Regions from separate parts of the Homo sapiens genome. Here all the other regions are linked to region 1. The links come from fine-mapping of genetic effects on gene expression. A gene starts in region 1. Each other region holds a variant in brackets. All regions are shown on one strand. Distances are from middle to middle. Region 1 holds the start of HIF1AN (hypoxia inducible factor 1 subunit alpha inhibitor). Region 2 overlaps SEC31B (SEC31 homolog B, COPII component). Region 3 overlaps WNT8B (Wnt family member 8B). Region 4 has its middle 38 kb from the start of HIF1AN. Region 5 has its middle 82 kb from the start of HIF1AN.

Evidence for each region. PIP is the estimated chance that this variant, and not a neighbour inherited with it, causes the effect. A credible set is the group of variants that fine-mapping cannot tell apart.
Region 2: its variant is the best candidate, but not a certain one, in a credible set for the expression of HIF1AN in transverse colon (GTEx, PIP 0.64).
Region 3: its variant is the best candidate, but not a certain one, in a credible set for the expression of HIF1AN in whole blood (INTERVAL, PIP 0.69).
Region 4: its variant is the best candidate, but not a certain one, in a credible set for the expression of HIF1AN in fibroblasts (GTEx, PIP 0.86).
Region 5: its variant is the best candidate, but not a certain one, in a credible set for the expression of HIF1AN in whole blood (TOPMed, PIP 0.59).

What each region holds. Positions count from the first base shown.
Region 1 is chr10:100,532,712-100,537,841 of GRCh38, forward strand. HIF1AN (hypoxia inducible factor 1 subunit alpha inhibitor) reads left to right here and starts at 3,232. Exons shown (of 8, transcript NM_017902.3): 1 at 3,232-3,424; 2 at 3,700-3,950. The coding sequence starts at 3,248. RefSeq lists enhancers at 2,992-3,081, 3,152-3,211.
Region 2 is chr10:100,497,889-100,503,018 of GRCh38, forward strand. SEC31B (SEC31 homolog B, COPII component) reads right to left here. Exons shown (of 26, transcript NM_015490.4): 11 at 4,366-4,596; 12 at 1,636-1,710; 13 at 1,272-1,370; 14 at 817-916; 15 at 141-319. Among named protein-coding and RNA genes, the nearest start is that of SEC31B, 19 kb to the right of the region's middle. The variant T/G (reference allele first, on the strand shown) is at 2,061.
Region 3 is chr10:100,473,394-100,478,393 of GRCh38, forward strand. All of the region lies in intron 1 of WNT8B (Wnt family member 8B), which reads left to right. Among named protein-coding and RNA genes, the nearest start is that of WNT8B, 13 kb to the left of the region's middle. The variant T/C (reference allele first, on the strand shown) is at 2,106.
Region 4 is chr10:100,571,749-100,576,878 of GRCh38, forward strand. No RefSeq gene overlaps it. Among named protein-coding and RNA genes, the nearest start is that of HIF1AN, 38 kb to the left of the region's middle. The variant G/C (reference allele first, on the strand shown) is at 2,130.
Region 5 is chr10:100,615,514-100,620,643 of GRCh38, forward strand. No RefSeq gene overlaps it. Among named protein-coding and RNA genes, the nearest start is that of HIF1AN, 82 kb to the left of the region's middle. The variant A/C (reference allele first, on the strand shown) is at 3,121.

The DNA of each region.
Region 1 (5,130 bases):
GAGTGCAGTGGTGCAATCTCGGCTCACTGCAAGCTCCGCCTCCCAGGTTCACGCCATTCTCCTGCCTCAGCCTCCTGAGTAGCTGGGACTACAGGTACCCGCCACCATGCCCGGCTAATTTTTTTGTATTTTTAGTAGCGACAGGGTTTTACCGTTTTAGCCAGGATGGTCTCGGTCTCCTGACCTCGTGATTCACCCGCCGTGGCCTCCCAAAGTGCTGGGATTCCAGACATGAGCCACTGCACCCAGACCAGTGTTAATTTTTTAAAAAATGTTTGGTAGGATTCATCAGTAAATCTATCTGGTCTTGAGCTTTTCTTTTTCTTTTTCTTTTTTTTTTTTCCTGAGATGGAATCTTGCTCTGTTGCCCAGGCTGGAGTCAGTGGCACGATCTCAGCTCACTGCAACCTCCGCCTCCGGGATTCAAGCGATTCTCCTGCCTCAGCCTCCCAAGTAGCTGGGACTACAGGCGTGCACCACCATGCCTGGCTAATTTTTGTATTTTTGATAGCGATGGGGGTTTTACCATGTTGGCCAGGCTAGTCTCGAACTCCTGACCTCAGGTGGTCCCCCCGACCTCGGCCTCCCAAAGTTCTGAGATTACAGGCATGAGCCACTGTGCCCAGCCTTTTCTTTTCTTTTGAGACAAGGCCTAGCTCTGTCTCAAAAGGCTGGAGTGCAGTGGTGCAATCTCAGTTGACTGCAACCTCCACATTCCGGGCTCAAGTGATCCTCCCACTTCAGCTTCCCGAATAGCTGGAACTACAGGCGTGCCACCATGCCTGCTAATTTTTTTTTTTTTTTTTTTTTGGCTGGGGGGATTTGGTAGAGATGGGGTTTCTCCATGTTGCCCAGTCTGGTCGCGACCTTCTGGGCTCAAGTGATTCGCTTGCCTCTGCCTCCCAAAGTGTAGGGATTACAGATGTAAGCCACCATGCCCAGTTTCTGGGCTTTTCTTTATGGGATGTTTTTGATTCCTAATTCAATCTCTTGTTACAGGTCTATTCAGATTTTCCATTTCTTCTTGAATCAGCTATTATAGCTTGTGCCTTTCTAGGAATCTGTCCATTTCATCTAGGTTCTGTAATTTTTTGACATACAATTGTTTACAGTATGTCCTTATATGCTTTTTTTGGGGGGTAAAGTCAGCAGTAATATCCCTGTTTCATTACTGATTTTAGTTCTTTTAATCTTCTTGATCTTAATTAATTTATTTATTTTTAGTAAGACAGGATCTTGCTCTGTCATCCAGGCTGGAGTGCAGTGGCATGATCATGGCTCATTGCAGCCTGCACCTCCCAGGCTCAAACAATCCTCCTACCTCAGCCTCCCTAGTAGCTGGGACTACAGGCATGCATCAACGCACCGAGCTAATTTTTAAAATTTTTTGTAGAGATGAGGTCTTGCTATGTTGCCCAGGCTGATCTGGAACACCCAGGCTCAAGTAATCCTCCTGCCTCAGCCTTGAAAAGTCCTGGGATTACAGGCATGTGCCACCATGCCTGGCCTAATTTATTTTTAATTCCCAAGGTTATGAATTAATACATTCTTGTAAAAATTCAAACATTCAGCCTGAGCAACATGGCAAAACCCTTTCTCTACAGAAGGAAAAAAAATTAGTCCGGCATGGTGGTGTGTGCCTTTAGTCCCAGCTACTTGGGAGGCTATGGTAGGAGGATTGCTTGAGCTGGGGAGGTGGAGGTTGCAGTGAACCAAGATTGCATCACTGCACTCCAGCCTGGGTGACAGAGTGAGACCCTAGCTCAAAAAAAAAAAAAAAATTCAAACACTGCAGATAAAATGAAAGCCTTGATTGCCCCCTGCAGCCTCAAACACTTCCACAGAGGTAGCCCTATTATCGGTTTGGTGTAGCATGGTTACTATGTAGCATAATTACATAGTTAAGCCAGTGCATTCATTTCTATTACTGCATAACAAATTACTGTAAATTTAGCAGCCCAAAACACCAATTTATTTTCTCACATATTCCATGAGTCCAGGTACTGGTTGGCTGAGTCCTCAGCTCAGGGTCTTATCAGGCTGAAATCAAGGTGTTGGCTGGGTTAGCGATCTCATCTGAGGCTCCGTGTGTGTCCTTTCCCAAGTTCAGTGGTTGTTGCCAGAATTCAGTTACTTGCATTTGTAGGATTAAGGTGCCCACTTTCTTGTTGGCTGTCACCCAGGAGCCTTTCTCAGCTCCTAGAGTCCACCTGCCATTTCCTGCCATATGGCAGTTTGCTCCTTCAAGGTGAACAGGACAGCTGTGCTGTGGCTTCAAATCTCTTAGATTCTGTCTCTGACCTCTAGCCCTGATTTAAAGGGCTAGAGTGATAAGATGAAGCCCACCAGGATAAATCACCTCTTTTTGACTGCCTTAAAGTTAATTGATTAGGGACTTTAATTACATCCTTGTCATATAAGCTAACCTAATTACAGGAGTGATGCTCTATCATATTCACAGTCGTGTTTTCTTTTAAGGGGAGAAATGTATACAGGATGTGTACACCGTAGGGTACAAATCTTGGGATACATCTTAGAATTGGGCCTCTCACAGCCAGCCATAAGAACTGTCCAAGTAAGCAATAGAGGTATTAATATGGCCTTTTATAATCAGTATAGATTGTTTGAAAATGTGAGATGTCCATGGTTGGCCTCTAATAACATTCGATTCACGGCAAACATATATTCAAGTAGGAGACATGGTGATATAGGCAGAAAAATCAAATGATGCTAAACAAAAGAAAACTGTCTTTGATTTTGAAAGAATTCAACTTGCTGTATATCTTTTGCCTAAGCCTTCAGTCAGCCTTTGCTCTACATCTACCAATGTGATCACTGCTTTTCCTTCTGACTTCTTTAGGTGGGTCAAGAGTTTGCTTTTCTCCCCATTCATGAGTGTAAAGTTTAATGCCTAACTGAACTTGCTTCCTTCTTTGACTCTTGTGTAGACTCGGGCACATGGGGCAACTTTTTTTGTGTTTTGCTCTACCAGGTCGTCCCTATTCCGTGGGACTAGTGTCTAGCCCCATTTCTTCAGCAGTGGAGCCTAGGATGTAGAGCTGCATACTACCATTAGGAGGCGCACCCTCAGGCCTCGGCTCCGCGTTCTTTATGTCTCTGGACCGCTCTCTCTCGCAGCTCATCTCTATGGTTTCCGTTGGGTGTGTGGTTTTTTTGTTTTTTTTTTTTTGGGGTCCGGAATAGGCGGAGCTTCCGGTTCCGGTGGGGGCCGTCCCTGGCGGCGGAGATGGCGGCGACAGCGGCGGAGGCTGTGGCCTCTGGCTCTGGAGAGCCCCGGGAGGAGGCTGGAGCCCTCGGCCCCGCCTGGGATGAATCCCAGTTGCGCAGTTATAGCTTCCCGACTAGGCCCATTCCGCGTCTGAGTCAGAGCGACCCCCGGGCAGAGGAGCTTATTGAGAATGAGGTGGGGGGCGGGGCCGCGTCTAAAGGGAGAGGAGGAAGGTACCCGGTTGAGAGGTCAGAGGTGAATGGTGAAAGAGATGGGAGACTGGCAGGGCTCTAGACTAGGGCCTATGGGAAGATGGAGAGAAAGGCGAGGAGATACGGAACTTAGGGGTTCGTGCTGATTAACAGGAGAAATTATTCTGAAGTTGAGAAGTAGTTGGGATCATGGAGGCCAACCCACCGGCTCCTTGGCATTACTTCATTTGGTGTTTTTCACCTGTTGTTTTCATTTAGGAGCCTGTGGTGCTGACCGACACAAATCTTGTGTATCCTGCCCTGAAATGGGACCTTGAATACCTGCAAGAGAATATTGGCAATGGAGACTTCTCTGTGTACAGTGCCAGCACCCACAAGTTCTTGTACTATGATGAGAAGAAGATGGCCAATTTCCAGAACTTTAAGCCGAGGTCCAACAGGGAAGAAATGAAATTTCATGAGTTCGTTGAGAAACTGCAGGATATACAGCAGCGAGGAGGGGAAGAGAGGTAAATTCCGAAAGCTTAATTTTCTGTTGGATTTAGGACACTCATTTTTCTTTCCTATACTTGTTTGAAGGTGTGGCAGAATTGGGTCAATTAGAGATTGGCCTCTCCCATCTCTGGATTCCAGTTGAAGGAGTAGTCTGGTCTTCCAGCCTTTAAGGGGTTTGAGTTCTTAGTGGTTCTTGGTGCTACAGCCAGCTAGTTCTGTAGCTTGAGGGATGAGGGAATGATTAAACTTGAGCTATGAATCTCTGGGTTCCCATCTTCTTCCTCATAAAGAGTTAGTTGCCTAGAAGGGTCAGGCAGGTGAATGGAAGGAGTAATATCGTCTGTGTGAAATCAGTGATGAGGCTGAAGGCATAAGCCTTGTTCAAAGTGAGAAGCCAAGGCCGGCGGGGGTGGCTCATGCCTGTAATCCCAGCACTTTGGGAGGCCGAGGTGGGAGGATTGCTTGAGTCCAGGAGTTCAAGACCAGCCTGGGAAACGTGGTGAGAGCTAGTCTCTGCAAAATTAAAAACTAAAACAAAAAACCATGGTGAGAGGTCATTACTTGACTCTGCTTGCTTCAGTTTTGGAGTGCAGTTCTAGGGTTGGGAGATATTCCGATTTTCAAGAGAAGTTCAAAATCAGGATTTTTATTTAAAATCTTTTGACTTTAAATGGAGCAACTAAATCAGATTTAAAGAAAAAAAGTTGCAGGGGGCCAAACAAAAATGTTTGTCACTGGATTTAGCTCTGAAAATGCCTGTTTGTAGCCATTGTCCTTAAGTATTGTGATGACTGAGGATAGTTCAACCTGAAAAGTTGTATAGTTTGTTGTGATTCTGCAGTAAAGAAGGTTAGGATTCTCTAGCTTAGGGAAGATCAGATTAAATTTGTTTTTCCTATCACAACAGCAACACAAGACACACAAGACAGTGATTCTTCCTCTCTGCTTTTATTCCTGCTTATGAGGACAGCCTCTTATGTAGGTCCGAGACAGTATTCAGTCCCACACTATAACACTGCCTCTGGGGAATTGCTTTCGCTCAGTACTTCACGGTGAATTACCCTCTCGCATTTGGTGTCCAACCCTGGGTTTCTCTCTAGTCTCTTGCTTCACTCACTCCTGTTCCTGACTCCTTATCAGCAGTCTGTGGCTAAGTGAATGGATTTGAAATATCTTTTTTTCTTCTTCTTAACA
Region 2 (5,130 bases), 35 kb before region 1:
GGCAAGGGATGAGGTGGGGGTGGTTAGAGTAGAAAGAGAGAGGCAGGCAGATACTCAAACATGGGTCCCAAGGTGTGGGTATCCACCTCACAAGGTCCAAGTAATCCCCTCCCTTCTTCTCCTGCATGATGGGCAGTTACCGAGGAGATTTTGGTTTTCTTCTTGGCCAAGTAGCGCTCCTGTGTTTGCTTCAGCAGATCTGTACCCCCAGCCTGGGCCAGGATAATGGCATCAGCAAAGCGCTCCTCCTTCAGACACAGCTCCACGGCCGGACCCAGTTCCCCAAGCAGGAGAGCCTGGCTTAGGAGTCCATCAATATCTGCAGGCAGAAGCATCCCCTGTGCATTAGTTGCTCTCAAACCCCAACTTCCTGCCCCCTGCAGGGCCCACAGCACACCCTCTATATCTCTATATCACTCAGTGTGCTTGGCTCCAAACTAAATCCTCAAGTTTCACTCCTTGGCAATAAAATGTATTTTGGTGCCCAGGTCTAAAGACAGGGCCCAAGACAAGGGAGGGAACTGATGTGGCAGTAGCACAGTGTGAGGTGTGCTTGATCACAGTGGGCAGGGCCACAGTCCTTTCAGCAAGAAGGATAGAAGAAAATCTGTTGGTAGAAGGCCTTCCATAGGAAGGACGTATCCATGAAAATCTACAACCAGAGAGAGCTCTAACTGGTAAGCGACTCACTCAGCATTTGAGACGGTGGGAGGAAGGCACGAGGCAGGGGACAAGAAGGGAATGTCTCAAGTCCAAAACCTCCGTGCCCACCTAGTCCTAAGCAGAGACTCTCCCTCTCCCTCAGGGTCAGGGTACCTTTTGTGATGGGGATCTCCCAAGGAGTCATGTTCTGAGGGACCAGCTCATCAAAGAAGGCTGAGGAAGCAGAGGCTTCCTTTGTGGTGTGTTTGGAGGCCTGTATGAGGAAGGACAGAGGTGACTACTTAGGGATGAACCCAAGACAGACAGAGAGCTGGCTTAGTAGCCCTGAGAGCTCTACTATTTGGCCGTTAATGGGTAAAACTAAAAAAATAGCCAGGTAAGGTTTGGGGAGGGCCATAGTTCATGGTTAAGACACAGCTCTCCACTCCCAGCCCAAAAGCTTAGGGACTCTGTGTCTCACTCTGGTTCTAAGAGAGTGAGGAGTCTGAAGACTTCTACAGACGCTAAACACTTACAGACAGCAAAGAAAAGGGCCAGGAAGGGAAAGATGCCCAAAAGGCAGGTTTCCTGTGTTACCATAGGTCAGGCTGACTGGACTCCTACCACACCTGGCTGCAGAAGGCCTGTTGTCTGTCACTGTTGAGGTCATTTCCCTTGGGCTGAGGACTCTCACCTAGCCCCACGTCACTCTTCAACCATGTGGCCACCTGCAGGGAGAGACCTCTGAAAACCGCTCTTTCAAGCGTAAGATCAAATAAGCATTATCCTCTTTTCCTATCTCCATACCCCACCAACTGTACTCTCTAAGATCCCTGATCTATTTTTTTCTGAGAAAAAAACAAACTCCAGGATGTAAAATGCTCACATATGCAATAATAAGGCCAGGAAGAGGTATTCTGAGGTGGTTTACTCTGGCAACATTCTCTTCTTCTCTTCAACAAGTACATGTTTCTGATGTGAAAAGCAGCTTACCTTCTTCTGAAGCTCATCTTTACTGTATCCTAAAAGCTTTAGGAATTTCATTCTGGAGTCTTGCTCTAAGGTCACCTAAGAAACCACAGAACACAGAAAAGATTCCATTAAATGAACATAAATGACGCTCTTCCTACAACAAGCTGGGTATCTGTGCCAGTATACCCAATATAGTTCTTTGTACTACTAGAAGTGCCCTCAGCAGTCCAATGCCATCTCTTTTTCCTCCCTGGATCTGACTTACTGATGGGCTATCAGCAGTGTTAACATAGCCCCCTGCCCTTTGCACATGAGAATTTGACCTTTCATTGACTTCCTAGCTCTGTTACCCTGGTAGTCTGGTGAGAGTAAAATGTCAGCTGTTCCTAGGCAATATGCTTGTGATTGGTAACTTGCATCTGGACTGGAACTATGTAACCTAGAAA[T/G]AATTAATGTGAACAACATGCTATGCATTTCCCTGTTTGCAGTGGCTCTTGTAACTGGACAGATTCCTTGCAGGGACTCCGGAAGCTATGCTTTTAGAATTGGTACAAGAGATATTGGCTCTTGTGGGCAAGAAGCTTCTAAGTCAGGGCAACTTACATACCTGCCTGATGTATAGTCTCATCTCCTTGCACCTGAGCTGTCTCTGGCGGGCTGAAGAAGAGAACTCTGAATTACTGCATGACTGCTGAAAGGGCTCCCACAGAAGACACCTGCCTGATGCTACCCTGCTGTGGTCCCTATCCCATATCCTTCCGAGGAGACTGCTGCCAAGTGTAGCCTACAGTAGTCTTGTGAGTCTAAATGTTTCTTTTCTTTTTTTTTTTTAGACAGACTCTTGCTGTCTCAACCAGGCTGGAGTACAGTGGCGCCATGTCGGCTCACTGCAACCTCCACCCTCAGGGTTCAAGTGATTCTCCTGTCTCAGCCTCCTAAGTAGCTGGAATTACAGGCGCCCTCAACCACGCCCGGCTAATTTTTTGTATTTTTAGTAGAGACAGGGTTTCACCATGTTGGCCAGGCTGGTCTCGAACTCCTGACCCCAGGTGATCCACCCACCTCAGCCTCCCAAATTGCTGGGATTACAGGCGTGAGCCACCGCACCCAGCCTTGTGAGTCTAAATGTTTCTTTGAGAAGACCTCTGGTAGAAGTTGCACAGGTACAGTAAACAAAGTCAGCTTCCCACTCAATGTCCCAAATACCAAGGAGCAAACCTTTCTGAAGCCCCCGTAATCTTGGTTAGCTGTCCCAGGCCCTTAATTTATTCCACACTGAAACATGATTTCTAACCATACCTTTCTCATAGTCTCTCTGGGCACCCTTCTCCTTCCATGCCCTTCCCTTGGAAATGTTCACCACACCCAACCAGGAACCATCATGATGGACAGCTCTTGGGTAGCTTTTAAACCAGAATGCCTGGCCAGGCGCGGTGGCTCACGCCTATAATGCCAGCACTTTGGGAGGCTGAGGTGGGTGGATCACCTGAGTTCAGGAGTTCGAGACTAGCCTGGCCAACATGGTGAAACCCTGTCTCTACTACAAAAAAAATACAAAAAATACAAAAAAAAAAAAACCCTGTCTCTAAAAAAAAATACAGGCGTGGTGGCAGGTGCCTGTAATCCCAGCTATTTAGGAGGCTGAGGCAGGAGAATTGCTTGAACCCGGGAGGCAGAAGTTGCAGTAAGCCAAGATCATGCCATTGTACTCCAGCCTGAGCGACAAGAGTGAAACTCTGTCTCAAAAAAACAAAAACAAAAAAACCCAGAATGCCCTGTCCTATAGGTCCCTCTGTCCTATAGGTACCACTGTCTCCTTTGTTTAGCGGAGTAAAGGCTGAACTCCTGACCACTCCCTCTCTTTACCATCTCACCATTCCTGGAACTTGTATCCTGCTTATGACAAAAGCATCATTTCTTATTCTTTTCTTCCCACATCATTCTCTGGCTTCACTGTATAGTCAAGATCTTTCTCAAATCCTCTTTCTCTAACTTCCTGATGTCCACCTTCATAAAGCTCTACTATGCCTAAAGCTCAAATTTCAAGTCCCTCTCAGATGCCCTGGTACAGGCCCAATCCTTTTTGCTTTCTTCTAAACAATTCCAAAAACTTGCACAATCATCCCACTGACTGACCAGTCAGCTACTTGCCTTTCTTCCTTCAGATCTCTCACTTGCTCATTTCCTTTGATAGGTATAGTACTCCTCCTGGTGTCACAGGAAACTTGAAATTAAATGAGAACTGGAACTGAACCCATGCCTCCAGTGTACAGTGGCACCTGAACCCTAGGACCCACTCCAAGGACTTGCCTTGGGTTACTTGAAACCAACTCAAAGCCTTCTTATGACAATATGTCCTTCTAACTAATGTTTTTCCTTTCTCCTCTTTTTCTCTTTCCTCCCTTTTTTCTTCCTTCCCATTACCTTATCTGCCCTTTGGCATGATACCGTGAAGGTCTTTGCCTTGGCCCTGGTAAAATACCTAGGACATCAACCATAGTAGCAACAAAAGAAAACATCTCGTGTATTCCCCATCTTTCCTAGCCTCTTCCCAAATGGCCTTTGAGCCTCTGGTAAAGGGTGAACGTTTTGTGTCTAGATGGTGGGTATAGTGTGGGGGAAAAACTAATGGGAGTTAAGGCCTCTGTGATCTGGGTCCCAGTGTGCTTGTGCTTCTCCTGCAGTTGACAGAGGTTGGAGTTCCAGGCTTTGGGGAGACACTTCTGAGCAGCTAGCCTTCAGGCTTCCCACCTTCAGGAACTGCCACAGCATCTTTTCACTTTGCAGTAAAGCTTGCTGGCTCTTGTTCTGACAGTAATTCAGTAGATTTCCTGATCCCAAGGCCTCCTGCAGCTCAGCTGATCGCATCAGGAATTCAGATTCTGTGGTGACTTGACTGATGAAGACTAGGCGGGGGCAAGGCTGTGGCACCAGATGGGCAGGGGTGCTGGGGAGGCCAAAAGTAACCAGCTTCCCTCCAAACTGGTGAGGAAAAGCAAGAAGGGTAAAGGTTATACCTTCAAGTCAAAAAGTAACACTAAGTCAGATTCACAGAGAAGGCTATCTAATGGCTGACCCTAGGCTAGGAAATAAATAAAATAAGAGAGTTCCTGGGGGGTGGAATAGGATCAGGAATTTAGTATTGAATTCGTCTCCCTACCAAAACCACTTCTGCACTCTTAGGACCACCCACTTCAAACTTCACCACACAAGACTCACCTTCTGCTAACCTGTCCTGGTACCACCATTCTCCCAGTCACCTGGGCTAAATACCTCAGCATTAGCAAAGTCTTCATACCCCCTATAGCCAAGCAACGACAAAGTCCTACCTATTCTTGTTCACTGTCTTTCATGCAGGTCCCCTCCATCCCATTCCCAGTGCCAGTACCCCCAGATTACTAAAATAGTTTGCTAGCCTTCTGTTCTTTTCCCTCCTCTAATTAAGCCTTAGACTATCCCTCTATTGCTTGTACCAACCTGCTGCTATTCAGGAGCCTGTGTGGTTTCACAAGGCCA
Region 3 (5,000 bases), 59 kb before region 1:
TTCAAAAAGAAACCCTTTATTTATTAGCATTCACTCCCCGTTCCTCCTCCCCTCAGTCCCTGGAAACTGTGAATCTAGTCAGTTTCCATGAGATTGCCTATGCTGGACATTTGATATAGATAGAATCATATCATTTATGGCCTTTTGTGTCTGGCTTCTTTCACTCAGGATGATATTTTCAAGGGTCATCCATGTTGTAGCTTGTATCCAGTACTTCATTCCTTTATATGGTCAAAAAATATTCTATTATGGGTTGGACATGGTGGCTCATGCCTGTAATCTTGCACTTTGGGAGGCTGAGGCAGGCGGATTGCTTGAGGTCAGGAGTTTGAGACCAGCCTGGCCAACGTGGCCAAACCCCATCTCTACTAAAAATACAAACATTAGCTGGACATGGTAGTGCATGCCTGTAATCGCAGCTTCTTGGGAGGCTGAGGCACAAGAATTGCTTGAACCCAGGAGGTGGAGGTTGTAATGAGCCAAGATGGCGCCACTGCACTCTAGCCTGTGCAACAGAGCAAGATTCTGTCTTAAAAAACAAAAAAAAAGGTGACTCTTCATGATTTTTGTCTGAGCAACTAGGAGGAACAGTCCTTTACTTAGATGGAGAAGACTACAGAAGGGGTAGGCTTGGGTGATGGCAGCGAGGATCAGGAGTTCAGTTTTGGACACGTTAAGTTTGAGATGCGTATTAAACACTGAAGGAGAGATGCCAAGAATACAGTTGGATATGCAAGTCTAGAGTTCAAGCAAATGTCTGAGAAGAGCTGGGAGGGTTCAGGAAGTCATGAACCCTTTGAATGGTCCTGAATCTGGGTAATATTGTCAGCAACTGTACAACCTCATGGGAAATGGGAAGCTTGTACCTCCATCTGGGAGTATACTGTTTTACCATGTTCTGTCTATATAGCAGCCTCCATTTGTTAAACAAAATTTATATCTTAAATTTACATCTTCAGTGTTTGTTAGCATCTTTCCTTCAATCACATAACTGCCACATAGAGGTGGCACCCATACAAACACTTAAATTCCTTCCTTTTTGGTTCTCTTTGCATCTTCTCACAATACTCACTATGTTTTCTGCAATCTATATTTTACCCCCAAAAGGAAATCATGTCATTGTTTCATTGACCAAGAACAAGATCCTCCTCCTTTGGTACTCACTACAGGACAGTCTTCTTTTTTTTTTGAGACAGAGTCTCGCTCTGTCGCCCAGGCTGGAGTGCAGTGGCACGATCTTGGCTCACTGTAAACTCCACCTCCAGGGTTCAAGTGATTCTCCTGCCTCAGCCTCCTGAGTAGCTGGGATTACAGGGGTGCATCACCACGCCCAGCTAATTTTTGTATTTTTAGTAGAGACGGGGTTTCACCATTTTGGTCAGGCTGGTCTCAAACTCCTGACCTCAAGATCTGCCTGCCTTGGCCTCCCAAAGTGCTGGGATTACAGGCGTGAGCCACTGCACCCAGCTGAGTCTTTTCTTAATATAGGATATTTTGGATATGAACAAGCTAGCCATAAGGTTCAAATATGTCTGCAAATAACTCGGAGGTTAACAACACAAGTTGGCTGGGCGTGGTGGCTCACGCCTGTAATCCCAGCACTTTGGGATGTCAAGGTGGGCGGATCACCTGAGATTGGGAGTTCGAGACCAGCCTGGCCAACATGGTGAAACCCCATCTCTACAAAAATTACAAAATTAGCTGGGTGTGGTGGCACACGCCTGTAATCCCAGCTACTCAGGAGGCTGAGACAGGAGAATTGCTTGAACTCGGGAGGCGGAGGCTGCAGTGAGCCGAGATCATGCCACTGCACTCCAATCTGGGCAAGACAGAGCAAGACTCCGTCTCAAAAAACAAACAAACAGAAAAACACAAGTCCCGGGAGGTGGAGTCTGCAGTGAGCCGACATCACACCACTGTACTCAAGCCTGAGCAAGATACAGTGAGACTCTGTCTCCAAAAACAAAACAAAACAAACAACAAAAAAAACAAAAACACAAGTCACTTTATAGGAATGTTGTCCAAATAAGGCCTATAGTGTTGTTCCATGACAGGTGCTCAATTAAGTCTCATTCATTGATCAGTTGGGCTTGACCTGGATATCA[T/C]ACAAATCTTTGCATATTGTAGGATCTTCCAGGAAAGAATTCTCTAGAATCTCTGTCTATTACTCCCTGTAGTTCCGGCTTAGACTCCTTTCACAGGAAGACTCTTCACCCCAGCTATGGCAAAGCATTTTCTTTGTCACTCAATTTGCTTTGTTGTTTTGTTTTCTTTCCTGATAATTTCTGTCTTATGGAAAATGGGAACTAGCTCTGTCAGGCTTGGTAATGTCCAAAATCTTTGAATGTTATTCCTAACATAAAAAGTGCCTTTCTGAGTGGGAACAAGCTCAGGCCCCTTTCCCCAAAGCAAAGGGGCCTGGCTGACTCCTCTGACATGTCTTTAAGGATCAGAAATTCATGTCCAAACCTATAATGGCTTTGGAAATTGTGAATTCATTTAAGTCATTCTGAATTGTATTTTTGTGTTTTGCTGGTGCTACTACACCTGATCAAGCAGTGCTTCTTTTCAGTTGAATTAAGGTTGCCTACCAAGCTTTAAAAAGTAGGCCTTGGTGGCTGGGCGCGGTGGCTCACGCCTGTAATCCCAGCACTTTGGGAGGCCGAGGAGGGCAGATCACGAGGTCAGGAGATCGAGACCATCCTGGCAAACACAGTGAAACCCCATCTCTACTAAAAATACAAAAAAAAAAAAATCAAAAAAAAATTAGCTGGGCATGGTGGCAGGTGCCTGTAGTCCCAGCTACTCGGGAGGCTGAGGCAGGAGAATGGTGTGAACCTGGGAGGCAGAGGTTGCAGTAAGCCGAGATGGCACCACTCTAGCTTGGGTGACAGAGTGAGACTCCGTCTAAAAAAAAAAATAGGCCTTAGTTTTGATAGACTTCATAGTATTTTTGATTTTCTAAAATTCTATTACAACTCGTTTAGAATCTTTTTCATCTCATATGGCAGCCTCTTAGTTTGTTAATACTGGTTTTCAAAAACTACTCACATTTTTGGTGTTGTATGTGTTTTTTATGAAGAAAGTCAGCCAAGCTCTTTTGGCCTGACAAGAAACTTTCTTGGTCTATTTCATTTCCAATCCCCTTTCTGGTGATGTTCAGCATCTTATTGGCCTTCAGAATTGCAGGGGTACACCAGCATGGAACAATACATAATGATTCCCGTATTACTTTCTCACATTATAATGGAAAAACAAAGATAATAGATAATAGATTCTGATTTTCAAATGCCTATACTGAAGTCATTCTCCAAGTCTTTAGCCCTGCAGATCATGTGTATATGTACATATATATTTAACTTTTTATTTTTAGATAATTATGGAGTTGCAAGACATGTACAGGGAAGAAACGTACAGGGAAGTCCCATGTACACTTGCCCCAACCTCCCCCAGTGTGAACATCTTACAACGTTAGTACGATATCCATGAAGCTTATTCAGACTTCACCATTTTTACATGCACTTGTGTGTACATGTACTCATGTATGTGGCTTTATGCAATTTTGTCATGTGTAGCCTTGTATAACCACAGTAAAGACATTTGGCCATTCCCCCAAGACTTTCTCATGTTACTCTTTACAGCCACATCCATCCCCCATCCCAAATCCTTGGCAACCACTGATCTGTCCTCCAGCTCTATAATTATATAATTTTTATTATTTCACTATTGTTATGTAAATAGAATCATGCAGTATGTATCCTTCTGAGACTGACTTTAATCACTCCGTAACTTCCTTGAGGTTCATCCAAGTTGTTGCATGTATCAACGTATCATTCCTTTTTATTGCTGAGTAATATTCCATGGTATGAATGTACCACAGTTTTTTATTTTTTATTCATTTATTTATTTATTTTATTTTATTTTTGAGTTGGAGTCTCGGTCTGTTACCCAGGCTGGAGTGCAGTGGCGCGATCTTGGCTCACTGCAAGCTCCATTCCCAGGTTCACGCCATTCTCCTGCCTTAGCCTCCTGAGTAGCTGGAACTACAAGTGCCCACCACCACGCCTGGCTAATTTTTTGTATTTTTAGTAGAGACAGGGTTTCACCATGTTAGCCAGGATGGTCTCGATCTCCTGACCTCATGATCTGCCTGCCTTGGCCTCCCAAAGTGCTAGGATTACAGGCGTGAGCCACCGCACCCGGCCACAGTTTTTTAAACTACCCTTTGAAGGACATTGGGTAGTTTCCAATTTTTGACTATTATTAATAAAGTGGCTATGAGCATCCAGGTACAAATTTCTGAGTGAAAGTAAGTCTTTATTTCTCTGGGATAAATGCCCAAGAGTGCAATTGCTAAGTCATATGACAAGTTCATTTTTAGTTTTTTTTTGTTTTTTTTTTGGGACAGAATATCACTCTGTTGCTCAGGCTGGAGTGCAGTGGTGCAATCTCAGCTCATTGCAGCCTCTGCCTCCCAGGTTCAAGCGATTCTTGTGCCTCAGCCACCTGAGTAGCTGGCATTACAGGCGCATACCACCATGCCTAGCTATTTTTTTTTTTTTTTTTTAGTAGAGACGGGGTTTTGCCATGATGATGCCTAGGCTGGTCTTGAACTCCTGGATTCAGGTGATCCACCTGCCTCAGCCTCCCAAAGTGCTGGGATTATGGGCGTGAGCCACTGTGCCCAGCCCATTTTTAGTTTTAAAAGGGGCAGCCAAACCATTTTTCCAAATCGCATTACTTATTTTTAGAGTTTTATTATGACTCAATCCCTAGAGAGATATTCCACTGTTTGTTTACCTCTTCCTAATTAGAGAAGTATCCTTCTAACGTCCCACGGAGTCAGATGAATGTGGATTCAAATCCTGCTTCACTCACTTATTAGCTGGGTGAGCCTGAACACACGTTTAACTTTTCTGGAGTCTCAGATTTCCTGTCTGCAAAATAGAGATAATAATGCCTGAGACAGTAAGGATTTAACAAGATCAACATGTAAAATA
Region 4 (5,130 bases), 39 kb after region 1:
CAAATACACAGCAGCTCAAACGTATACTCAGACACGAACTCAAGCACTCTACCCTTATGCCACTCAATATTCACACTGAAACACCATACAAAGACAGAGACCCATTCCCAGATACTCCAAAGGGAAAGAGAACCAGGAGCACTGTCAGAGGAGAACCTCTGGAGACATGAAGGAGGCAGGTGGTCAGAGATAGGAGGAAGGAGAGAGACATGTTCACGGTGAGAGACAGTTTGGAAGCAACTTCTATGCTGTAAAGGAATGTGAATTGAGTAGTCCGGGGGAATGAGTCAGGAGGTTGATCCCTGGGCCAGGTGTGCCCCATTTTGTACAAGGGAACACTGTATGGTCAAGAAATGATTACTCAAGGTCATGCAGGGAGTCGAGAAGACGTGGGGCTGGGTGCAGTGGCTCACACCTGTAATCCCAGCACTTTGGGAGGCCAAGGAGGGCGGATCACCTGAGACCAGGAGTGTGAGACCAGCCTTGCCAACATGGTGAAACCCCGTCTCTACTAAAAATACAAAAATTAGCTGGGCGTGGTGGCGGGGGCCTGTAATTCCAACTACTCAGGAGGCTGAGGCAGGAGAATTGCTTGAACCCAGGAGGTGGAGGTTGCAGTGAGCCAAGATCGTGCCACTGCCCTCCAGCCTGGGTGACAAGAGCGAAACTCTGTCTCAGAAAAAAAAAAAAAAAAAAGGTCAGGTGCAGTGGCTCACGCCTGTAGTCCCAGCACTTTGGGAGGCCGAGGTGGGTGGATCACAAGGTCAAGAGTTTGAGACCAGCCTGGCCGACATGGTGAAACCCCGTCTCTACTAAAAATACAACAATTAGCTGGGCATGGTGGCATGTGCTTGTAGTTCCAGCTACTCGGGAGGCTGAGGCAGGAGGATCACTTGAACCTGGGAGGCAGAGGTTGCAGTGAGCAGAGATCGTGCCACTGCACTCCAGCCTGGGTGACAGAGTGAGACTCCCTCCCCCTCCCCCAAAAAAAAGAGTAGATGTGGGAACAGAAATAAGGAATCCTGTGCCCTCCTATGGGGGCCTCAGGGCACTAAACACTGTGTGTATGTGTGTGTTTTTGTGTGTGTAAGATGTGCTTTTGAACGACGCTGGCTTAAGTGCCATCCACATACTAGGATCAACAATTGTTTGCAGAGGCTGGCAGTACCTGACGCGGCAGTGTATGTCTGCAAATGTATATTTGAGGACTTGTGTGTGCACACGCATGGGGGGGATCATGCTTGTCCTATTCACTTCCGTATCCCCATCACTTAACAAAGGGCTCGGCACATAGTACTCAATCAATATTTATCCAAGCATGAATGAATGAATAGAAACCCTCAGGGATCTCAGGTATAGGAGGGCCTGATCACTGGTAGAGACCGTGGCAGCTCAGCCTCTGGGTGGGGCCTGGGAAGGTGAGACATAGTAACTCTGGCCAACTTGCTGCCATCGCTGTTGCTATGAGGGGCCCTGTGGTCTGTGCTCTGTCTAAGGTAATGAGTTTCATGAGTTATTTCAGACCATTCTGTGTGGCGGGCATGGGGAGGGGGAAGGAAACAAAAGACCTGTCCACTTGTTAAACATGGGACAGGTAAGGGAGAGAAGGGCAGTAGTAGACGGAAACTCAAGATGGATAGATAGCGACAGATAGGCATACTGACGAAAGACACCAACTGGTGGATATATTTATTTCTAGATAGACCAAAAGACAAATAGAGACATAGATAAATAGATGTACAGATAGACACACAGACTGACATGAATAGGCAGGCAGGCAGACAGTCCTGAGGAGTGACTGAGAGATAGACCAACAGACAGGCAGACAAATCAATAGACAGACAGATGGACAGCTGGTTGCACAGAGAAGATGGATGCGTAGCTCAGGACACAGAATGGAGCCAGCTCTGCTGATGGCCTACCCCACAGCCAGGCCCCACATTCCATCGTTCTTTGTTAAGGAACCCACTTTCGTGGGTTTGAAGTCCAATGCTTTGGAGAAAGTTAAACACTTCACTTGTCCAACAGGTGACTCTTAATTGTTCTAGGAAAATCATGGTAACTCCATTCATCTTGGATGGATGATTTGGGAATGGACATATGATACAACTTTTTTTTTTTTATACAAA[G/C]TTTTGCTCTCGTTGCTCAGGCTGTAGTGCAATGGTGTGATCTTGGCTTACCGCAACCTCTGCCTCCCGGGTTCAAGTGATTCTCCTGCCTCAGCCTCCTGAGTAGCTGGGATTACAGGCATGCACCACCACACCCAGCTAATTTTGTATTTTTAGTAGAAACACGGTTTCTCCATGTTGGTCAGGCTGGTCTTGAACTCCCGACCTCAGGTGATCCACCTGCCTCGGCCTCCCAAAGTGCTGGGATTACAGATGTGAGCCAGCATGCCTGGCCTATGATACAATTCTGACCATCGATATGTGGGAGGTAGTCTATTACGAAGCTTTTGGGAAATTTTACTGCAGTCTTAAAAAAGGATAGATGGAAGGGATGTGCCCCTTTCCTCCTTCTGGATTCTCGCTTTGCTATGTGAAGATGTAATGTGTTGGGTTGCTCCAGCCTTTTTGACACCCTGAGGTTCAGCCTGAGTTCAAAAGCTGACATGCCAAGGATGACAGAGAAGAGATGTGAAAGGAATCTAGGTGCTGGTGATGCCATGGGGCCACATTAATCAGAGAGATAAACAGGTAAACTGAGGAGCTGACAGTTGGAAAGATCATCAGACTCTGAGCCCCTGATGTTTATGTTTAGCACCTGTTACATACTTGTTTGTATTGACTATGTGATTTTCTAGTTTGGGAAAAACATTCTGTCTCTGTCTCTGTCCCTTCCTCCCTCTCCCCTCTCTCTGCCCCCTTCTCTCCCTCTTCCCCTCTATTTTCCTTTTCCCTCTCCCCTACCCTCCCTCTCTGCCTCCTCCTCCCCCATCTACCTGCTTCTGTCTCTAAGAGTCCCCATACGCATGGCTCAGCTCTGCCTCCCATAGTAAGGCATTTACTTGTGTGTCACAGGCTGCCTCTGAGCAGGGCCTGGGTTTGGGATGATGAGGGGAGAGGCTGGGAACCATGGGAAGGCAGAGTACCTCCTTCCACCCCCTACCCCATGCCCGGCGAGCTCAAGCAGTCTTTCCCCCAAATCCATCAACTTAGTCCTGGCCTAGGGTTCTTTTCCTGACCACCCCCTCTTCCTTCCTGCCAGGATTCCAAGGACCTGGGGTTATACCTCTGAAGTAAGTCATTTTTGAGACCTGTTCACTTTTCAGGCTTGAGTCCAGCCTTTGGACTTGCTTTTTTTTTGCGATGGAGCCTCATTCTGTTGCCAGGCTGGAGTGCAGTGGCGCGATCTTGGCTTACTGCAACCTCTGTCTCCTGGGTTCAAGTGATTCTCCTGCTTCAGCCTCCCGAGTAGCTGGGACTACAGGCACCTGCCACTGCACCCAGCTAATTTTTGTATTTTTAGTAGAGACAGGATTTCACCATATTGGCCAGGATGGTCTGGAACTCCTGACCTCAGGTGATCCACCCGCTTTGGCCTCCCAAAGTGCTGGGATTATAAGCATGAGCCACTGCGCCGGCCGGGACTTGCATTTTTGTTATGGGGCATGGAAATGATGGCAAACAGATGGCCGCAAGGGCAGGGAGGACCACCAACCCCCCACAAAAAAACTTGGCTCTCCCCGTTTTTGTGTTCATCTCAGTTGTTGGCCACTTTATGAATCTCTGAGTCTCTCAATTCAACAAATAAATATCAAGCTTTTACTCTGTACAAGGCACTGGCTGGTGCCATGGGAGACAAATGAGAAATAAGACACATTCCTCTTCTGGAGGAATCTTCTCTTTTTCTTCTTCCCTTTGTATGTATCTCTCTTTGGGTGTTTCTGTCTTTCTCTTAGTCAAATGATCAAGAAATATTCATAGGATAGGCACTGTACGCCATGTATTTGGGCTTGCTTTCCTCCTCTAACTCCGCCCTCTCTCCATGCCATCAGCATTCTCCCTGCACTGTCCATCTCCAGGTCCCACTTACACTGCAGCAAGATGATGAGAGTTACGTGCTTTCCGAGAACACGAAACCCCGAGGGACCGATGACTCTTTGATGGTCCCCTTCTCCTTTCACCCAGGATAATCAATCTGTCAGGGGACCAGGGGAATGTAGGAGATGACTTCACAAGCATGCAGGCAAAGGGTGACCCCAGGATATATTCCTCCTGGCTGTTATGGCTTCCCTCCTCATCTTTGCCCCCCCATCTCCTGTTGCCTAGCTATTCTTTCTGAAGCATTATTCCAAGCAAGTGCCCCACTGGCAAAGATGGTTCAGTGTGGCATTCCAAGCTCTGCACCATATGGGCCCAACTCACCCCTTCCAATTCCACTACTCCCACCCCCCACAAGACCTTCAAGACTGGCCACCTTCCCTGACAGCCAGCAGTTTCCTGCTTCACCACCATTCACATTATATTAATACAGCTTTTAAAGCCACGTTTAGAAGTCACCTGTTCCAAGAAGTCTTCCTTGATGCCCCTACAAGAGGCTCCAACTCAGACCCACAGGCACCAAACACGCCCTTTTATGCATGCATACTGACCTGCCGGCAACCAAGGTTGACATCAGTACCAACAAGTTCATGGCCATGTCTTGTGCTTTCCACCCTGCCCTGGTCAGAGTTCGAGGCTCCTCCGGGCTCGTGGACAGCTCACCCCCAAGACTCTTTCATATTCTGAGTTCCACACTCCCCTGGGCCCCAGTGTGTCCAAGCAAGCCCTGGAGTGTCCTTTGGGTCATGGCCCCAACCTGTTCCCTCAACCTTCTTCATTACCTGCCTAGACAGTGGCATCTTCCTTCCTCCCCTGCCCTGCCCTTCATCCTCCTCCTCCTCAACATCAACAAGTTTCCTTATAACCTACTATGTGCAGGGTATAGTAAATTACAGTAGTGGATCTTCACTGAGGACTTATCACATGCCAGCCTGACCTATACAATCTCACTTCGTTCTTACAACAACCCTAAGAGGCAGGCACTATTATTATTCCCATTTACAGAGGAGGTGATCCCATTTCACAGATGAGGCCCTCCCACACCTAGATAACAGACTCTGGAGCCAGACTGCCCAAGTTCTAATTC
Region 5 (5,130 bases), 83 kb after region 1:
ATGGCCAGCACTTTATCCTGATCGCCTTAGATATTGTTTCGAGTCAATCATCTGTCATGGTGCGGCAGGAGAGCCTCTGCCTTCACACCACATTCCCTCCCGCTGCAGGCCCCGCTGGGGCACCCTGGGGGGAGGAGAGCTCAGCCCCCACCCTCATAGGGGTGCCCCTCTTCCAGGGGCCCCTGTTTTGTATGGCTTCTCTCCCCTGGTGAGTTCTGTCTTTACTGGGATGCTGAATTAGAGCTCATAGAGGGTGGGGGTGCTGCAAGAAAGGGGTGCTGAAGGGCCTGAATTAGAATTAGGAAATATTGGGGTGGGGCCAAGCTAGTCTGAGGTACCTCCTAAGTGCTCTCAGCACATCAACCACCCCTAGCCTGTCCATCAGTGGCCTTCAGTTTCTCTCTCATCTCTTCACTGTCCCCTGAATATATTGTATCTCTCCCACCTGCTTACCCTACCCCAAACTCACCAATCCCATTGCCAGCCCCTCCCTGACCTGGCACTGGCTATGCGTTCAGCTTCCATTCATTTCTCTGACTTGGCTCACTCTGGTCCTGCCGCTGGAATGCTGCTCCTGTTGGTTTTTTCCTGTTTAGGACTTCTGCCATCTGTTAAGTCCCCAGACTGGTTCCACCTCCTCCAGAAAGCCTTCCCTAGCTACCTGAACCCACGGTGCATGAGCTCTCTGAGAGGTGGGCCAGTAACAGCACGGGCGCAGCCTGCAGGGGCCACACTAACTGGACACACTCTCTCCCACCAGATCTCTAGTCCATTTATCTCCCTCCTGCCTTTAAATGGTTTCCAAATGTCCTCTCTCTTCTTCTTTCACTGTTTGAGTGATGTGTGTATATGTGTGTACATGCGTGTGTGCATTTCCTAATCCCCTCAAGCTCCTTTGAATATGGCAAAATGTAAAGTGGAAATAAATATTACTGTTTTTTAATGGAGTCTCACTGTGTTGCCCAGGCTGTAGCGCAGTGGTGTGATCTCAGCTCACTGCAACCTCCACTATCCAGATTCAAGTGATTCTCCTGCCTCAGCCTCCTGAGTAGCTGGGATTACAGGCACCTGCCACCATGCCAGGCTAATTTTTGTATTTTTAGTAGAGACAGGGTTTCGCCATGTTGACCAGTCTTGTCTTGAACTCTTGATCTCAGGTGATCCACCCGCCTCAGCTTCCCAAAGTGCTGGAATTACAGGCATGAGCCACTGCGCCTGGCATAAATATTACTCTTAATGATAATTTCAACTCTCTAGCTGAACTATGAGTTTCTCAAAGGCTGGCCATTTCCTCCCTGTCTCTTGCCCTTCCATAGCCTAATTGTCTCTTGCCCTTCCATAGCCTAACTGTGAGCACAGAGGATCAGGCACAGAGCAGGGACCTGCATCATCACCTCCAGAAGGTCCCTGATCACTAAGGCTCTCCGCTTCCTCTCATCCCCCACCTCCCACCTTCTACCATACATCTTTTCCATGTGGTAGATACAGGCATTGTGGGAGACTGTCAGTATTCGAAGCGAGTGCTGTTTCTGGCAGGAGGAAGGGGACATGTTCTATGAACAGTGTCTCCATAGGAGATAGCCTAGACGGTTGGTGTCTCCTTGGAGGAGATCAAAGAGGTCAAGGATCCCCATAGGGTCAATGTCATGGGTCCTTTTTAGATAGTTGGAGTATTCAATGTCAGCTGGCTGGTCAGTGTACCCCATGTAGCAGAGTGTCCTCACTGATGGTCAGTGTCACCAGGAGCCTCATGAAGGGTCACTGCCCTCTAGAGATTGTCAGTGTAGTAGGCATGCCTTATGGATAGTCCAAGGGTCAGTGTGGCCAGACCTCCCTAAGGAAAGATATTCACAGACTCAAAGGGTTCCCAGAAGACCCTTTGGAACTTCCTTACCTCCCCATCCCCACCTGGACTCCTCTTCAAATGAAATCCCGACTTGTTTGTTCCTGGTTAGTCTCATTCCTGACTTGCTCCTTGGCTCTCCCTAGTCCCTGAGCTCTGGGAAGGGAGTGGAGATGGCACCAGCAAGGTCTAACAAATCATGGGGTTCATGGTCAGGACCTGGGGGTGGTTCTCTAGGGTGCGCCACCAGGACCCTAGTCCTTCCTCCCTCCCAGCAGCCCTCATCCAGAAGACATGGCTATATTGGTGGTACCACATCGATGGATTGAGAGCTGCAGGGAGGTGGTGGAAAGGGTCTAGAATTGGGGTCATTATTTACAAGGGAAGGCAGGACAGTGGCTGGAGAGACTTAGGAGCAAACTTCGTAGTGGGAAATTGCAATCTACTGTTAACATCTAGGGAAAAATCAATATATCAGATGATGTGTGTATGCGCCCATGTGATGGAGGGTCAGTAGGTGAGGGGCTCAGGCCCCTGTAGGGAAGAAGGGGTGGAGTGTGAGGGCGGCTCATTCTCTGGCTGCTGTTTCCCCATCTACACAAGCTGGGGGAGATCAGGCTCTGGGTCCAGGGAGCACATGTGCTGGGTAGGGGTCCCAGTGGGTGGGAGGACAGAGATGCCAAAGCTGGTGAAGTCCTGGCCTCTTCCCATCTCAGACACCCTCAAGGCACTGTCCTCTCTCTATATCCTGAACTTGGCTGCAGCAGGGGTAGATGAAAAGGAGGAGAAACTGTTGGATAAAAAGAAATTAAAAAAAAAAAAGTAAGTGAAATATTCAAACTGGAAAGTGATATTATAGAAACTGCAGCCCACGGCTCAGTGCATTCAAATTTATTCAAACTCGGTGCCTGACAGTGATGGATGCGGCAGCTTTTCCCACAATATGGAGAAGGCGCGGGGGCATTTAGGACTGCGGGTCCCCTCCGGGAGGGTGGGGGCCCACACCACCTCCCGTGCCTAGCTCCTCCTAAATGGGAAGCAAGGTTCTGGGACCTGTCTCCTCTGCTCCCCTGCTTCCCAGCCACATCCTCTATCCCAGGGTCCTGGGATCCTGTGGGCCTCGGCACCACCAGCCCAAGTGCTTGGAGTATGACCAAGGACACTAGGGAAAAGGATGGCCAAGCATGTCCAGGGGACGACTGGACACGGGTGTAGACTGCATCAGAGAAGGGTGTGGTTGCATGGTCTGCAGCCAAATAAATAGGATGAACTCGACA[A/C]GCCCCCAGATGTGCTGAGATCTCAGGGTCTTGGTGATCCCAAGACAGAGAGCAGTTCATCTCATTGATCTCCACTTTCCTGTCCAGGCCAGCTTGGCAGCCACTCCATCTAAGAGAGGGACAGAAGGGCCTCTGGGGAAACGGCAAGTCTGGGGCCTGGTCTGAGCAGTGGGCAGGCAATGGAGTGTCTATGAATGTTATGCCCTGGGGTGTCTCCTGCTCTCAGGAACTCCACCCATAGTTCCCTGCACAAGGTTGCCCTGGCCTCCTGTCCAGCCTCCTGACCAACAGACCCTACATCTGATTCTCAGGCCCCATCCTGTGGGAACCCTTGGGAATACCGTCACCCCCTAAAGCTCACTCCTCCCTTGGCTGCCTCGCCCTTCGCTCCCGCCCACCCCTCTCTCAGCTCTAACACTCCTTCTCTGTCTCTTTTGCTTCCCACACACACCCCCAGGTATGGATAGAGTGCAAAGCTTCAGCTTCAGCTTCAGCTCTCTGCTGTCCCCTCCCTGCAGACTCTCAGGAGATCTCATACTCCAGCCCCTTCAGCAGGTGATGGAAACATCTACCTCTACTTCCAAGCTTTTCTTGAGCTCTAAGCCCACAATTCAGGCAGTACAAGGCTAACTGTGGGAAAGCGAGCTCATAAGTCTCTCCTAAAACCAGCAACAACTTGTGACTCCCCTATTTTGTTAATAGCCCTATCACTCACTATTGACCCTCACAGAACTCTTGGAGCCTCTGTCTCCTTCCTGGTCCTCATCCCTACCTTCCATCAATTAACAAATTTCAGAGATACTTCCTGATGCCTTTTGCACCCACCTTTGCCTCACCGTCACCACCACCCCCATGAAGGTCCTTATTATGGCTCTTCTAGGTCACTTCATTTCAACCAACAAACTGCTTTTGAGTGCGTACCGCATCAGGTACCAGGTCAGGCATCCTCCTCTGCCTTTCAGTTTTACTGTCTCTAATTGTTCTACACACTGCTGCCAGAATAACTCTCCTAAAGCACAGCTCTGATCATGTCACTCCCTTGCTCAAACACCCTCAAAGGCTCCCCGTTGCCTGCTATAGAAAGTGCAGACTCCTTACTCTGATATTCAGGGCCCTTTGTTATCTGGCTCCTGCCCACCCCTCTCTCCAAACCTTCCCATTACTCTCCTCCATGCTTACATTTGCCAGCCAAATTGGACTCAGAGTGGTTCCCCTGAACATTCCCCACACAGCGACTTCCCACTTACGAGCATTCACTCATGTCCTTCCTCTGCCTGTGACAATCTCCTTCTGGAATGGCATCACCTTCCAACACCCCAACTCCTCTCTGCCCATCAATATTTTAATCCTCTGCAAGTCCTGATTCAAGCAAAGCCATCTTCTGAACATTACCTATAAATGTGTGCAAGGTGTCTGCTGGCTACTATAATTATTATTGCTATGATTATTCTCCCCCCTCAGCAGTGGTTTCTCTTTTCTGGGAACCTTATAGGCCCTCTCCACAGCTTTCCTGGCTGCTGACATGGCTTTCCTAATACTGATATTGCTTGTATACCTGACCTACATCTGTCCTGGACTATAAACTTCTTGAGAGCCAGGACCAATAATATTCATTTGTGTCCCCCTCAGCCCCTAGCCCAGGAACCTCAGTAAACACCTGTTGAACAAGTGAATAAAGGAGTGAGTGAATGAACGAATACAGCTAAACTCACTAGGACATGGCTATGTGACACAGACTTGGCTCTTCTGAGCTTCCTGTTCTGGACGGTGACCACCTAAGAGTTCCCTGTCATTACTCCCGGCTCTCCTGACATGTGTCCAGGTGAGCTGGGACGTAAGTGTGCAGGCTGTATGACAGGTGTGTCATCCCTCCAGAGTGAGAGGGGAGTGTGGCAGAGTTCAGCCTTCCCAACTCATCAATCAAAGGGCACTTACTGACAGCTCCTGAGAGCCAGCTCTGGGCTCTGCTGCTAGGGAGGGATGAGCGGGAGATGAGAGCTGCCCTCTGGG